Regions from separate parts of the Homo sapiens genome. Here region 2 is linked to region 1. Evidence: fine-mapped expression QTL. A gene starts in region 1. The other region holds a variant in brackets. All regions are shown on one strand. Distances are between the middles of the regions. Region 1 holds the start of NPY2R-AS1 (NPY2R antisense RNA 1). Region 2 has its middle 44 kb from the start of NPY2R-AS1.

Evidence for each region. PIP is the estimated chance that this variant, and not a neighbour inherited with it, causes the effect.
Region 2: its variant is the best candidate, but not a certain one, in a credible set for the expression of NPY2R-AS1 in prefrontal cortex (ROSMAP, PIP 0.53).

What each region holds. Positions count from the first base shown.
Region 1 is chr4:155,205,817-155,211,200 of GRCh38, forward strand. NPY2R-AS1 (NPY2R antisense RNA 1) reads right to left here and starts at 2,356. Exons shown (of 2, transcript XR_001741894.2): 1 at 2,209-2,356; 2 at 1-1,999. NPY2R (neuropeptide Y receptor Y2) reads left to right here and starts at 2,820. Exons shown (of 2, transcript NM_000910.4): 1 at 2,820-3,253.
Region 2 is chr4:155,161,269-155,166,652 of GRCh38, forward strand. No RefSeq gene overlaps it. Among named protein-coding and RNA genes, the nearest start is that of NPY2R-AS1, 44 kb to the right of the region's middle. The variant G/T (reference allele first, on the strand shown) is at 2,140.

The DNA.
Region 1 (5,384 bases):
CTATCTATCTATCTATCTATCTATCTATCTATCTATCTATGATTTCTTATTTATTTTGGCCTGTCCACTAGGAGTTTTGGATTTTTAAAAATTAATTTGGTTTATTTAAAATTCAGAAGATTTTTAACAATATGGATTTTGCTTCTCTTAAAAATCGTATCTGACAATACTGAATCAAGATTTTTGCAGGCCAGCTGAGTGTACTCTGAGAAGCAATCTCCCCATTTAGCTATAGCATGTGTTTTTGTGCTCTTCAAGGTGTTATGGCAATCAACATTTTCCACTCTCTCCTACAACCTAGCATGCTGGTCCATTTATGTCATTGGCCCTAACCATGCAGGCATCTGAGTTTGAGTCTGTTGTCTATTTGAAGAGCAGTCACAGCACATATTCTGGTTAGAAATGGAATTTCCTGAGCAACTAAATGATTTGATACAAAAGAAATCAAGCATCAATAATCTTGTCCTATTTCAATTTGGATTAATCGATATTTCACCACCACTTCCACAAACTCCCAAACTCCTGTCAGTGTCACAACTGGGTTTATGGACATTCATCAGAGTGGTTCATTGTTACTACAATACACAGGATATGTATGCACATTTAAGGATATGAATTAGACTGTGATGCACAAAAGTGTCATAAGCTAATTCCCACAGCTCTCCTTGATAATATGATACACTATGAAGTGACTTTCATTTCAGTTTATCAGTTTCTCATCCAATTCTGAACTTTATTAAAGGACATTAATCATAGAGACCATTTACTCTTTTGAGGTTGCTGACTAGATGTCTGTGGAACTATATGAATCTACTAAGACAAACACACGTCTATAAGAGAGTGAGGCAAATAGTTGGTTATGGCTGCTAATACGCTTCTGAAAGGCAATTTTAAAGAAGATAAAATGTGTTTTGTGCAATCAATGTCAGTGAAATCAGTTGAATTTTCCAAAGCAATTGCTCTAAAAGACAACACTCATCTGTTTTGCTGGATATTTGATTTGTTTTTGTGGTCGTTGTTTAAATCCATTTCTACTCTTTTAAAGTTATAACTTATTGGTATATGGTTCATTCTTCACCAATGCAGATATATTGAGAAGAATGGAACCTGTCACATATAACACATATTTGGGCAAAGAGTACTTTCTTAAGGAAAAAACAAACAAAACAAAACAAAACAAAAACAACTACTAAAAGACTTTAAGTGGAACTGTGTAGAACATGTTAAATATTTCCATTTCTGTTTACCTTTGTTTCTAGGTATTTGAAAAGCCCAGGCTGCTTTGTTTTATAAACAATTCCTATACTCCTGTGGGCATAATTCTATATTAACTGAAGATTAATTTCAGGTTACACTGTAAAAATGCCTTACAAATGCAATACTATTAGGGTGTGGAAAACCCTGAAGGAACTGAAAATCCAATCCATTTGAGGGAAGCCTTTAATTAACATCTTGGAGAATATGTATTACCTTTTTAAACAGATAAATATTTTTTTTCATTTTAGAGTAGCGGAATCTAATCTTAATCTAATCTTTTAGGAGTATATTTCAGAGAAATTCCAAGCACACCAGTATGACCATCCTTATTTCAGAAATGACAATGCATAGAGGAAAAGTAATGTGTGCAAAGCCTCCGAAGAGGATGGTTAAGTAAAGACTTAGGTTACCAGTATCAGGCTTTCGTTTTTGTATGTAGGTAGCTCTACTGCCTCCTCTTAAAACCAACAAAGGAAAGAGAGACTGGCTGCAAACTTTTAGAAGGAATGGCTTCGAATAGGGTTCCTGGGAGGAATCCCGAGGAAATAGACGCTGCTGCTCTGCTGATTGTCTCCACTATCCTGTTTTGCTCCTACCCACTAATCCAGCCTGGGAGGCTCTGGGCATTAGCGGAAGGCTTCACCACAAGGAGACAGGAGCGAGTATTCCATAGGCATGCGCTCCTAGTGGCACGAGTGGCTTGGGTCAGGATCAAAGAGTGAAGGATTCGGAAGTCAGCTATCTGGAGAGAGAGAGAGAGAGATTGTGTTTTATTCGTGTCCCATAGCTTTCCTATCCTATCCCTATCCTAGCTTTTAACCTGAGCCAGAGCTCACTACACAGGTTCCTGGCTATCGAGTCTGAATCTGCACTACTCAACTTATAAACTGTCTGCAGACACCTGTTAGGGAAATTGCTGATCATGGGCAGCAGGATCTGAACTCGCTTTACCTTCTCGTTTGGAGCACAGGGACCGCCCAGCTAGAGGAGCACCAGCGCACTGCGCCCCAGCCCTGGGCGAGGGTGCGGAGGATTTGTTCTCGGTGCAATCCTGCTGGCGCTTTTCCGGGGTTCTGCGCGGATCCAGCTCCCCATCTCTGCTCCTACACACACAAAAGAAAACAACTCTCGATTGGAAGTTGTGGAATTTTCTCAGCCCCTACGAGGCGCGGGGATTCTCCAGCCCCGGCCCTCCTCCCGCCAGCCTGAGGTCTCCTTCGCTCGCCTGCCTTGCTAGGGACCGCAGTCCCTCAGCCGCAGCTGGGTCTGTCCGCCCCGCCTTTGCCCTCGCCTTTTCCCGGGGCGGATTTGGTGAAGTCGGCCTCAAGTCCAGGAGGTCTGTCTTCGCCGGGCCAGCTCTCGCGGAACTGGGGGGTAGAGAGCAAAGGGAGAGATTCGTGGAAGGGAAGGGAGGTAGGGGTGGCGCAAACGCCCAGAGTATCAAACTTGGGGGTGGCACAGTAGGTGACAGCAGCAGCTGCAGGTGGTGGCTGGGGACCCGCGAGGGGGCGCCCCTCTGGGTAGGGTCTGGCTGAGCGGGCTTGCAAGCCCGGGAGGCGGCTGAGAGACCCTGGACACTGTTCCTGCTCCCTCGCCACCAAAACTTCTCCTCCAGTCCCCTCCCCTGCAGGACCATCGCCCGCAGCCTCTGCACCTGTTTTCTTGTGTTTAAGGGTGGGGTTTGCCCCCCTCCCCACGCTCCCATCTCTGATCCTCCCACCTTCACCCGCCCACCCCGCGAGTGAGTGCGGTGCCCAGGCGCGCTTGGCCTGAGAGGTCGGCAGCAGACCCGGCAGCGCCAACCGCCCAGCCGCTCTGACTGCTCCGGCTGCCCGCCCGCGCGGCGCGGGCTGTCCTGGACCCTAGGAGGGGACGGAACCGGACTTGCCTTTGGGCACCTTCCAGGGCCCTCTCCAGGTCGGCTGGCTAATCATCGGACAGACGGACTGCACACATCTTGTTTCCGCGTCTCCGCAAAAACGCGAGGTCCAGGTCAGTAAGTGTAATTCCTAACTCTGATCACCTCCTGGGAACAAGAAAATCCCTAGAGGAGCGCTCGGTTCCTATGAAGAGGGACATGAGGAGGTCCTCATGAGTGTATGGACTTTTTCCTCCTCCTTTAGGCGGGAGGTGGCGATTTGGAGGATGTAATACCATCCCCATTTTCTACTTTCTCTAGATTTTCCCTTTTCTGTTGAAGATTATTTACTATTTCCTTGACCCTTCTTTGAGATAGGTCATTATCTTTCCAGAACAGTAAGTTGTTATTGTTCCTGCCTCTTTAAAAATCAAACACTTGTCTAAAGCAGAAGGTCCTATTGGATTCTCCAAAGCCGTTCAAGAGGAGACACATTCATTTAAGCGTTTGCTCATTTTCCATCAGAAAGGCTCACCCACTGGCAGGAGCTTTTGGTGGCAGGGAAAGAGGCAAAATTAAAAGCTTTGAGACTTTTTGCAATAGGTACACATCATTTAAAATTCAGTGACATGAAATGGAGATGCTGTTTCCAAAGAAAGGCTTCCCACACCCTTTGGTGAATATTTTCAACTTTCTACTGATTAGCCAAACAATCATGTCTTGTATGTAGCATTCTTGAAACTTCCCTTCTTCCCCCTCCCCTGCCCCCATTCCTAGAACTAATTAGTGTAGGCAAATGCAGGGCTTTTGATTTCTGAGACTGATTTCTGAGATATTTTTCCCTGGGAAAAATGTTCTGGAAGACATTGTGCTTGATAAGATGTGTAGGTTTACTAAGGCCAACCTGTGACAATATTGTTGCAAAAAGCCCCCACAGATTTAAACATCTCTCCTCAAAGCATGAACTGGTCTCTGACTCAAATAACTTGAGGTTATTTGAATCTCGGGTGGTGGGCTGCTGGGGGAAGTCCTGAAACTCTTTTCCTATTCTGCAAAGAAATGTTTCTATGACAAAGTTTCTAAGGATTCCCTTATTCAGGAAAATTGTACCAGTAAAAGTTCTCTTTAAATGTCTTAAAGTAATGTAAATATCTCATTTTGCCTTATTTCAAAGAAAGGTTATTCCCTTGTCTGCTTGCTGTTTCCTTTGTGTGCTTTTGATGGCAACTTCCTCTGTGTACCATTTTCCTTTCCCACTTTTCCAGAAGTGCTGTCATGAAATGATGCATTTTCTGCTCTGGGTAATGTTTTGACCTGGCTGAAGGGAGTAACCTGCTTAAGCACAGCTAACACTGTCTATATTCTAAGAGCTTGTAGATCAACAACCATTCCTACAGAGAAGTTGTAAATAAAAGGGCTTCAAAATTTATAAAACAAGACTGAGAAGAAAAAGCAAAGCAAATCAAAAAATCAAGTATACTCTTCCTCCTAGTAACCTTCAATCTCATGCTTCCTCTCAATTTAGTCAGGTATAACCTCCAAACTCCAGCCTCTTGGAGTCTCTTTAATTCTGTAAATGGCTAAATGGCTTGTCAGGATTGAGTAACTGTACTCTAAAACCAGTCTCTTTCTTAGTCTAGGGGATATGGTGTGGGCTATCAAACATACACTCCAAGATATGAATGATTTGTTTCAGATTTCTCTAATTACTAAGGAGTGGAGGCACATGTGAAAAGAGGCTGGGGCTCCTTGGAATGTTCTATGTGAAATTTATGCAGAGGGAGCAGGAATATATCAGTACGGCAAACACCTGAGTACATGGAAACTCTCATGTCTCTCTGTATAGTAAGGCTCCTGTGGAAGGGTGAGTGGTGAGAGACAGAGAGTGAGGGAAAGATGCGGAAAGAGAAAAAAAAGTGAGATAAATGGAGCGGGAGAAAGAGAGTTGGGGGAGCAGAAACCTTTGAAACAGAAAGTTTTCTTTATGGGTTATACTGACAATTTAAAATGTTATAATCAGGAATTAATTTAACAGGGTCTCAGGACAATTTTTTTTTTGTATAAGCAGTTATCTGATTAAGAATAAGAAAATAAGCATATGGATGTTATGTCATAGGGAAGAACCCTACATAGGCAGTTGTCTTCAGTAAAGGAAAGGATCAAAATTATACTTTCCATTTGGCTGACATTGATTATTCAGTATAATTGTGCTTTCCTTTAGCTTTATATTTGTTCTGACAAATTGCTGAGTACCTTTAATATGCTATAT
Region 2 (5,384 bases), 45 kb before region 1:
AAAAACAAAATCCTTCTGCAAGGACATCTCTCCAGCAACTGCCTGTCCAACTTTGAATTGGCATCACCCTTGTTATTGATCTTTGTAGCCAAGGATAATTATCTCAAAACAGTTATGTGATCCTCCTCATTTTTTGTTTAAAAACTTTTGTCTTCCTTTACCTCCCAGAAAAAGCACATAGTTTAATATGGCATGGGTATTCCCATTGCAATGTTCTACTCCTGAATAAATATAGTTTTCTTTTAGAGAGGCTCTCTTTGTTATTTAGGTTGACATCACCAAGTTGGCAAGGGAGCAACAGCATAAGCCTTTGTGCTCAGGGTACAGCATGGCACAGACCTGAAGGGAACTTTTTGCAAGGAACAAAAATAATATGGCAGGATCTGCATTTAATAAAACCAAAGTCACAATGAACATGAGGTGGCTCAGCAGATACCAATACGTTCAGGTGCCAACCTAAGCAGGTACCTCCCTCCCTCGTTGTCCGCCTTGAGTCTGCATCATTCGAGTCTTCCTGGAATTTAAAAAGCAATCTTAGATAAATGTCAAGTGGGGACCCTTAAGCTTACATAGATTAAACATCTCCATTTGGAGAAGAGAGGCAAGTTTCGTCTAACGATAAAAACAATAAGGATGAATTTAGATGAATACCAAATTCATCTAAAATATCAAATTCACCCTTCAGATGAATATCAAATTTAAGAAAAGAATAAGGCTTGTTGAAATGGCAAATGTGTGGATAGTTGGCCCAGGACTCAGAAAGCAATAAATAACTGATCAATGGACCACATCCCTCAAGATGAAATGTAATGGGGACAATGTGGACATAATGTAAATATTTTAGTAGATGGCATGGGCTTAGCTGCAGAGTGTGTAAATAGCTAAAGTTTCAATGACCATTAAATGCATTAATAAAATTAAAATAATGAAGAAAGGGGGACAGTTCTAATTAAAGGCACTAGTCAAGATATTCTTGGAGTAGTGTGTGTGTGTGTGTGTGTGTGTATGTGTGCACGTGTGTGTGTCCTGGAAACGAGAATTGAGGGGACTGAAAAGAAAAGAACTGACTTATATGGCTGACTTCACATGATAACAGCTATTACATGAAAGAGTAATTAAATTTTTCTGTGGTCCTTGTGGGTAGAATTAAGGCCATTTGCAAAATATATACAAGGAGAGATTTTTTTTTAACCTAGAAAGAAAGAACTTTTTACACATAAAACTGTCTGAAGATAGAGTAAGTAGTAAGTTCCCTGTCACTGGAAAGGAGATTCTGGTTTTGCAGTGAGGATCTGGAGGGAGAATTCAAATATCAAATGGGTGATAGAGGGTCAAATAAATTTTTAATCCTTCCCAAGTCTACGATTTCATGGTATTATAACAGTTAGACTTTTGAACTATGCAGAAAATTGGAAAGGAGTTGAAAAACCGAGAGAATGATTGTTAGAAATCATTATAAGTTGCAGTGGCTGCTTCTGGAACACAAATAATGGAAAAGGTATAAAAGCTAAATGTTTTCATTTTTTTATAATCCAAAATGCATTATGAATATTTCTTGTGCCACTGCATTTAGTAAATAATGTAAAAATCTTGACATGTATATTTTGCATAAAATGAATAACCTGAGATGCAGAAACACCATGTCGATTTATGCAATCCAGTGGGCATTTTTGAGACAGTAAAGCCTCACTGAGAGGCCCCCAGGTACTGTCTGCCTCTGGACAATGTAATGAGGACATGGAAAATCTATGGCTTTCTGTTGCCTTCACATTTCCATCAACTGGGATGATTTCAGGAACATGTAACAGAAAATCCAACTAAACAAGGTTATGGTATAATACTACATTGTGTGGTAAGAAGCCCAGAATAAGGCAGTTATAGGAGTGATGAATTCAATGGCTCGGTGTTGTCAGGTATTCAGGTTGAGTTCTCTGTGGTTCTTGTGGACTTTCCCTTCATAGCAGCAACCTGGCTGAACAACATAAACCACCATGTAAGCCGCTCGTCACACATGATAATGTCTAAGGGGAAAAAAGAGTGTTTAACAAAACATCACTGATAAAGGAGATGAGATGACCCTGAGTAACTTAGGTTAATTTACATTTTACCTTCTGTGTGGGGCCAGAAGTAGGCAAATGG[G/T]TTTTCAATGTCTGAACGAAAGCAGGATTTTTTAGCAGGGAAGAGATGCAATGGAACAGGTATGGATTTTATCTAGGTAACTAACAGTGTCTGCCACAGCTTCTTGTGCCAGGGTCCAATGCCTGTTTTGAAACAAAAATACTATAGTAATGTGTCACGTAACAAAGAACCTCAACCAAGCTAAAAGCAACAGAAATTCATGTCTTGCAGTTCAGGAAGGAAGGTATTGGCTAGGCGATGCTTCCTCTAAAATCTGTAGGAAACTCCTTCATTCCCTCTTCCTAGGCTCTGATGTTTGCCAGCAATCCTTGGCATTCCTCAGCTTGTAGATACATTGTTCCAATCTCTGCCTCCGTCGTCACATGGCTGTCTTCCTCCTGTGTGTCTGTGTCTTCTCTTCTTATAAGGACGCCAGTCATATTGAATTAGGACCTGCCCAAATGACCTCATTATAACTTGATGACACTACTAAGACCCTATTTCCAAACAGGGTCATATTCACTGCAGTGCCAGAGGTTAAAATTTACATGTATTTTTTGGGGAGAGGGCACAATTTAACCCATAATACTTACACAGTGACACTCTTCAAGGGATCCCAACCTTGCCTGTATGGAGTCTTCCTCTATAAACAAGGTCCAAGGTTTCTTCTTCTACACAGTATGGGTATGGAGACACCAGGGTATATTGATAAGAGCACCAAACAGTATGGTATGCTGGAAAGAGCATCAAAACAAGGTTTGAAGACTTGAACACTATTTGGATCGTCTTAGGAAAGGCAATTATTTTCTCTTAACCTGTTAGTTTCCTCGCTGTTACTCATCTAAGAACTTCCCAGGCAAAAGGTACTCTGACCTCAAGGCATTGCTTGCCTCATGCCAGAGCTGTGTGGCTCTTTATGGAGATGAACATATCTTGCCATTGCCTGATACCATTAAACATTCATTTATTTTACTCATTTCTAGTGCAATATTTCCAAAGCACTCTTATTACAAAGTCTTCCCACATGATGTGCTTATAGATGTGAATTTCCTTTCTCCAAAATTTTTATATTTCTCAATATAATTTGAACCATTGTCCTTTAAATGTTGTGAAAAAAATAAAGATTTCAGGTTTTTTTTCTTTCTAAATTCTTGGTTGTAAAATGTCATGTTATTTTCCTTTAGTACGTCAGGTTTACAAGGCAATGCGACCTTCCTGTTTTTATTCATATACAATGTCTTTATATTAGAAATTTGTAATCTCAAATGCTTAGGGTGTAATAAGGAATACATAACAATTGAGATTTTTTTAAAAAAATTACAAAATAATAGGAAAGTTTATGGGTGAATGAACTTATTACCAGTGGCATTTTTAATGAAAAACACTCTGACCTGCATTTCCAGGAGCAGAATGGTTCAGAAGAAAAGTGAATTTCTCAAATTCCACTGGCTTCTTTAACAAAGGTTCATGAGTTTGGGTGTGTGAATAAGCAAGCCCAATGCAGGTCTAGCTGAGTTGGCATGAGGTTAGGGAAAGGGGCTGTATTGACAGACAAATGAGATCACTCATTCTAATCCATTCCAGGATAGCCAGAAGGTTTCAAAGAGGCTCAATAATGAGAGTTGCCTCTTATTCTGGGTCAGGAGACACACTCGTGCCTTCGTGACTATTTTAATTAATGTTGTTGTCTGCCTGGTATGCTTTCTTCTTTTTATTCTAATGGAATATGCCTTCCTATCCACATGGTGGGTCTGTCACATAGGCTGGAACTGTCATATCATCCCATGACCCTGGTGTTCTGGATTTTTTGTTGCAATATCATCCCCTTTAGCAGGAAATAGGCTGATAAAGCTGAGCAGTGTCTGAGGAGGCATAGCACACATGCAACTACTTCAGATATGGCTAAGGAGGATAAGAGGTAAAGAACAAGCTCTCAGAGGGCTGGGCTAAGAGCCACAGAAAACAGTGGATGAGGACATCAACCCAGGGAGAAGACAGTGTTTATTCAAGGTATCTTCATTTCTGCTGTAACAGATATATTCCTAAAATGTACTGCATTAGACAAATCATGCAGTAAGAAAGACAGGGTATATGGGAGAAATGGGGCTAGGGGCCCAACACTCAAAAACTGTCAGTGACATATATTTAAAAAGTAGGAGCCTGTTCAGAGCTTGCAGTAAGCCAAGATCGCACCACTGCACTCCAGCCCGGGCGAAGGAGTGAGACTCCATCTAAACAAAACAAAAAAAGAAAAAAAAAAAAGTAGTGGGCTGATAAAAATGGCAGCACAGTTTTACCCATATTAAATGGTTAATTTAAAAAACAAAATCTATAGTAAATTTGGCACTTTACCTGGAGAAAAACTGAATTTCCTTGTATAACTGGGCATTGGAAGGGCTGCAACTTGTGCATTATTGTGAAGTGGCAGAAGAAAGGTTATTTGGAGTTGGATGGAAAGTTGTAACACCAGAGAAGGTAGGTTCAGCTTATCACACATGCATTGAATCAAGCTAGCTGGTAGATGTTTGAAGTGTATCTATGTGTGTGTATTTCTACACGTTTTTATTCAGGTGAATGCAGTTTTCTGTGTTCACCTAGTGGACAGTATTGTGCATAAGCAAATTAGTGTTATGATCAACTTCTTTCTTAACATATCAATCACATTGAAACAGAGTTGTATTTTAGAAACAAGCATTATAGTAGAACAGACTATATTTCTAGAATACAGCCTATTTTTTCTCCATTTACCTAAAGATATCTCATGGAAGCATATTAAAATAAAACCCATCCCACTTAATAATCTAACAAAAAATTGATTCTTCCCCCCAAAATATGTGCAGAAGACATAAAACTAATAAACTGGAGGCATATTCTGAGATCCAATTTTTTCAGATTTGTTTTTGTTTTACTTTATTATTTTAAAAAAATTCCAATAGATTTAAGCGTACGAGTGTTTTTTGGTCACGGGGTAAATTGTATAGTGGGAATTCTGGGCTTTTGGTGTACTCATCACCCAAATAGTGTACATTGTACCCGACAGGTAATTTGTCACCCCTCACCCCCCTGTCATCGTCCCCACTAGGGTTGAGATCCAACTTCATATGGTTCTATGACATGCGGCTTGCTTTAGTAAAACCAGGGTTAGGAGCACTTGCTGTATATCAGGCAGATCCAGCCAATCAATATTTATAATGCTGTTGCCATTGTGTATGTACGTTTAAAATGTGTCTTTTCATTAAATTCCTTTTTTCTCTGAGGACAAATAA